Linked DNA regions of Homo sapiens: region 1 is linked to region 2. A link means that fine-mapping ties the variant in region 2 to the expression of a gene that starts in the linked region. Tissue or cell type: whole blood. Region 2 holds a variant in brackets; the other region holds the start of a gene. All regions are shown on one strand. Distances are between the middles of the regions.

Region 1 (2,683 bases), 32 kb after region 2:
CGGGGTGTGTTGTGTGTGTGTGTGTGTGTGTGTATATATATATATATATTTTTTTTTTCATTTAAGGGAAGGATTGTAGCTATGCACCTGAGTCATGGACTCTTCATAACTATTGTTTGCACATCCAAGGGATACAGGATGCTGTAAGAATGGGCACGTGTAAGCCGGCCGCGGTGGCTCAAGCCTGTAATCTCAGCACTTTGGGAGGCCGAGGTAGGTGGATCACGAGGTCAGGAGTTCGAGACCAGCCTGACCAACATGTTTAGTAGAAACTCCGTCTCTACTAAAAATACAAAAATTAGCTGAGCGTGGTGGCGAGCGCCTGTAGTCCCAACTACTCCGGAGGCTGAGGCAGGAGAATCGCTTGAACCCAGGAGGCGGAGGTTGCAGTGAGCCGAGACCGCGCCACTGCACTCCAGCCTAGGCAACAGAGCGAGACTCCGTCCAAAAGAAGAAGAAGAAGAAAAAAAAAAAGGGCACCTTTCTGATTAATGAAGAATGCCCAAGAGTTCCCCATTCAGAGAACTGAGGAAGCACCCTCACGTTCGGCAGCCTGTGGACATCTGTCCAGGCAGAGAGCCCGCGACTGGCCAATCCGGTTACCTTTGGCCAGGGACTCATGCTGAGACACCGCACTTCACTTCCCCTCTCTTTTCCCGCCCTCGCCAACCCAAAGAGAGGCAGACAGCTGGGCACTCACATCTTGCATGGCCCGAGTGCGGTGATCAGAATTGATCTGGTCCCGGAGCTGAAAAAACAAACGGTGACACAAACGCCGTTAGTTTGCGTTCTGGAGTAGAAAAGGCCGCCCGAGGGCGGAGCTTACCCGCTCAGCTTTTACCAGCTGAGGCAGAAAGGCCTCTGGGGCTCCGGACCCCGGGAGGAGGTTACCAAGACCGGAGCTCGGAGAGGGAGCCCGGAGGAAGGCAGGGAGGTTCTGAGGGCCAAAGCAAGCTCTCAGAGGTCAAACACGGGATAGAGGCTCGTGCTCCTGCCGCAGCCTCTGCTCAGGCCCCACTCACCGTGGACTTCTTGGTGAGCATCTCTTTAGCCATGACGTCCATGAGCCGTTCCTTCTCCTCATGATAGCGCCGCTGCTGCTCCAGTATTGTCTCCATCTTCCCTTAGTCGCGGCTTCTCAATTCAGACCACCAACACGGCCGGAAGCAACTCCTGCCGCCCAGCGCGCCTGAGTCCCCACGTTGCGCATCAGGCTGCACCAAAGTTCCGCGAGTGCCGGAAGTGCCCCGGGACTTAAGAAAACAGGAGCACCACAAGGAAGGCCAGTCCATGTTATGGAGATGGCAACAGTGCCACCTGCTGGTGGGAGGTGTGGTGGAGCGATGCCGAGAGGTTCGCAGATGCCTCCAGGGGGCATAGGAAAACCCAAGAACCTGAGGTTCAGCGGACGGCTTCCTGCGGCTTGCTGGGGCCGGCTTGGCGGGCAGGTATCCTGTGTGGACTGCGCGAGCAGTTGGAGTGCGGATGGGAGTTGGGAAACCGGAACTTGAGGACGCAGCTTTCAGCATAAATTATGAGAACGTTTTCTCTTTCTCTGGACCTCAGCGTCTTTCTCAGGAAAATGGGAATAGTGGGGTTTTGCTGGTGGTGTTTTTAAAAAAATTCACATGTGAGGCCGGGCGCGGTAGCTCACGCCTGTAATCCCAACACTTTGGGAGGCCGAGGCGGGCGGATCACTTGAGGTCAGAGGTTCGAGACGACCAGGCTGGCTAACATGGTGAAACCCCGTCTCTACTAAAAACAAACAAACAAAAATTAGCCGGGCGTGATGGCAGGCGCCTGTAGTCCCAGCTACTCCGGAGGCTGAGGCAGGAGAATCGCTTGAACCCGGGAAGCAGAGGTTGCCGTCAGCTGAGATCGTGCCACTGCACTCCAGCCTGGGCGACAGAATGAGACTCAGTCTCAAAAAAAAAAAAAAAAAAGAAATTCACGTGTAGAAACGACTTGTCTATCGGCAGCGAATATGTTAAATAAAATACTGTGCATCCAACGAGATCAGGAGATTGAGACCATCCTGTCTAACACGGTGAAACCCCGTCTCTACTAAAACTGCAAAAAATTAGCCGGGCATGGTGGCGCGCGCCTGTAGTCACAGCTACTCGGGAGGCTGAGGCAGGAGAATCACTTGAACCCAGGAGGCAGAGGTTGCAGTGAGCTGAGATCATGCCACTGCATTCCAGCTTGGGCGACAGAGAGAGACTCCGTCTCAAAAAAAAGTAAAATAAAATAAAATAAAATACTGTGCATCCAAGCAGTGGAAGACCAGCTGTGAAATGACATACAGCCTTAAAAAAAATTCTGTCTATATATCTCCACTTGTAGGTAGAGAAATGCAAACATGTCCATGTGTTCATATGTTCACAGCGGCATTATTCATAATAGACAAAAACTGGATGCAGCCCAAGAGTCCATTAACTGGCAAATGGATAAAGTGTGGTATATCTATACAGTACAATGGAACATTATTCTGCAATAAATGAATACTACAATGATGAACCATGAAAGCATCATGCTAAGTGAAAGAAGCTAGACAGAAAAACAACAGTGTATGTCCAGATAAAACGTCCAGAACGGTGTTAAAAGAAAAACACTGGTGCTTGCTATGGCAGCACATATACTAAAATTGGAACCATACAGAGAAGATTAGCATGGCCCCTGCAAA
Region 2 (2,683 bases):
GTCACCCAGGCTGGAGTGCAGTGGCGTGATCTCGGCTCATGGCAACCTTCGCCTCCTGGGTTCAAGTGATCCTCCTGCCTCAGTCTCCTGAGTACCTGGGACTACAGGTGCATGCCATCACGCCTGGCTAATTTTTGTATTTTTAGTAGAGACAGGGTTTCGCCATGTTGGCCAGGCTGGTCTCCAACTCCTGACCTCAAGTAATTTGCTGCCCTCGGCCTCCCAAAGTGTTTGGATTACAGGCATCAGCTACTGCGCATGGCCTGAGTTGGAATTTTTAAAAGTAGATATATTAGCCAGCCTGCCTCTGCATGGGATGAGTGCGGCACTGGTTCTTGGTAGGTTTTTAGAAAAATAAGATATAAATGTGTAATATAAAGAAAAAGATTAACATTTTTTTAAAAAGTAGATTTATTAAAAAACAGTTGAAGGTCTGAGTGTTGAGAGGCAAATGGGGTCTCTGGGGGATCCTGTCCTGCAGCAGGCCTGACTTTCAGATGACTGTGCTTATAAGGCAGATCAGTGCCTTCCTGGTTGCCTTAGTTCTTTCCATTTCAGACACCACATTTGGATCCTGGGGCAGCTGCTCAACTCTACCCAACTCTACCATGGCTACCTGGGATTGGAGAACATGTGAGTATTAGCTACTTTTACAGTCAAATAGGGATCTTGTAGAAGAAACAGGTAGACAGACCCACCAGTCTCTCATTCTGACCTAGCAAGCTGGTGAAGTCACTGTCGGTCCTAGTTCCCTTGTTTGTTGGGCTGCAGGCCCATTCCAACACAGCCCAACTCCCCCCCCCCCCCCTTTTTTTTTTTTTGAGATGGGGCCTCACTATATCGCCCAGGCTGGTCTCAAACTCCTAGGTTCAAAGGATCTTCTAGCCTCAGTCTCCTGAGTAGCTGGGACTACAGTGCGTGCCACCATGCCTTTTTTTTTTTTTTAATGAGACAGGGTCTCACTATGTTACCTAGGCTAGTCTCAAGCAACCCTCCTGCCTCAGCCTCCCAAGTAGCTGGGACTACAGGCACAAGCCACTGCACCCAGCTCCAACTCCTTTCTTTATGCAAATACAAAAGGCAAACCTTGGTGCGACACTTAGTCCTTAGTAGCAACCCTGGCTCATCCTCCTAGTCTTTCCCTAGTATTTGCATCAATGGCTAACTAAGCTGATGGCAGACCTCATCCTGGGGTAATACTCATTCAGGGAAGCAGCAACAAAGGAGGGTGGGGAAAGAGGTCAGGTCAGATTTACCTAACATGATA[T/G]GTAGCATAATAGGTGCCCATTAAATCTCAGCTACTAGTAAAGTTGGTGAGGAAGAGGTATGGAGGCGTTAAGACCTGAAGCACTGAGTTGGTCCATAACCCTGGGCTTTAGAACAAGGTCTGGTTTTATTTTCTGGCAGAATCTTTTAAAATATAAAACAGATAAAACACATCTCAACCCTGCAATCTGCCAGCATGCCTTGTTTCTACAAGATGCATGCTAGACCATGAGACTACATAGCAAAGGGTCTTTAAGAGGATTTGGTTGGGAGAAATAGAAAAAGCAGATCTTAGGGAAGCCTGGGCTAGCCCAAAAGCTGAGCTACATCCCTGAACACTAGAGCAGTCCTTGTCTTTTCAGATCCTCGTATGTCTTCTTATTCACAACATTCCCACTTGAGTCTTCATATTCTTCCTGAAAAGGAAGGGGTACACTTTGTTAGACAGCTCTCCTAAAAGAAATGTTTGGAACCAATCTCTAAGTACCTGAGCTCATCCTGGCCTGATTCCATGGCATACTCTGGTACACTAAGATTGGCATTCATCTAAGCCTTTCTCAACTGGGGTTCCACAAGAGAATTAAGTCCCACTGCCCCAAAGCAGCCACCGTGTGCAATGAATTAACTTCTCTCGTAGACATCTAGAATGATATCAGTCATGACCCATCATTAGAGTATCTGAGAAAATAGTTTATTTAGCTCTCTATGTTTAAGATGGGGAACCCTGGTTGAGAAAGGCTGACCTACAACAGCAGTTTTCAAATGGTTCCCAAGAATCCCAGGATTCTGCTCAGAGGCCATTGCAGGGGTTGAAAGGGAAGCCAGGAAGTCTGAGCTTCCCCATGTCCAGGGCAATTCTGCTTGATTCTATTTTATATATCAGAGTACTATATTACAAGTGGAAGAGAGTTTTGCTGCCAAAAAGAAAAAAAATACTGAAAACCACTGACTCAAAAAAAGGGAGGCTATTGTCAGTTACTATGGGACTTGGAGTGAGTCAGTACCATTCCTTACATACATGTCATTCTTGATCTCTGAAACCTGCTGCTTGGGATGACCATCATAAGACCAACAAGGACATCTCCCTGTCGCTATGAGAGTATCATCTCTCATTAGATGCTTTCCTCAAAGGAGATCTAATACATGATACAGAGTCTCGGCATTTTAGTCTATAAATCTCCATGGCAGAACATGAGATTGGGTACTCCCACTTGCCATTTCAACTTTTTTTTCTTTTTTTTTTTTTTGTGAGGTAAGTTCTTGCTCTGTCACCCAGGCTGGAGTGCAATGGTGCGATCACAGCTCACTGCACCCTCGACAGCCTGGGCTCAAGCAATCCTCCTGCTTCAGCCTCCTGAACAGCTGGGACCACAGGCATGTGCCACCACTCCCCGCTAATTATTGTATTTTTTGTAGA

Evidence for each region. PIP is the estimated chance that this variant, and not a neighbour inherited with it, causes the effect.
Region 1: SF3A3 starts here. The variant in region 2 is fine-mapped to the expression of SF3A3 in whole blood (TOPMed, PIP 0.96).

Annotation. Positions count from the first base shown.
Region 1 is chr1:37,988,848-37,991,530 of GRCh38, forward strand. It overlaps SF3A3 (splicing factor 3a subunit 3), which reads right to left and starts at 1,175. Exons shown (of 17, transcript NM_006802.4): 1 at 1,023-1,175; 2 at 701-748. The coding sequence starts at 1,118. It also overlaps the pseudogene RNU6-510P. RefSeq lists enhancers at 427-526, 1,227-1,396, 1,788-2,333.
Region 2 is chr1:37,956,582-37,959,264 of GRCh38, forward strand. SF3A3 (splicing factor 3a subunit 3) reads right to left here. Exons shown (of 17, transcript NM_006802.4): 17 at 394-1,682. The coding sequence ends at 1,605. Among named protein-coding and RNA genes, the nearest start is that of INPP5B, 11 kb to the left of the region's middle. The variant T/G (reference allele first, on the strand shown) is at 1,268.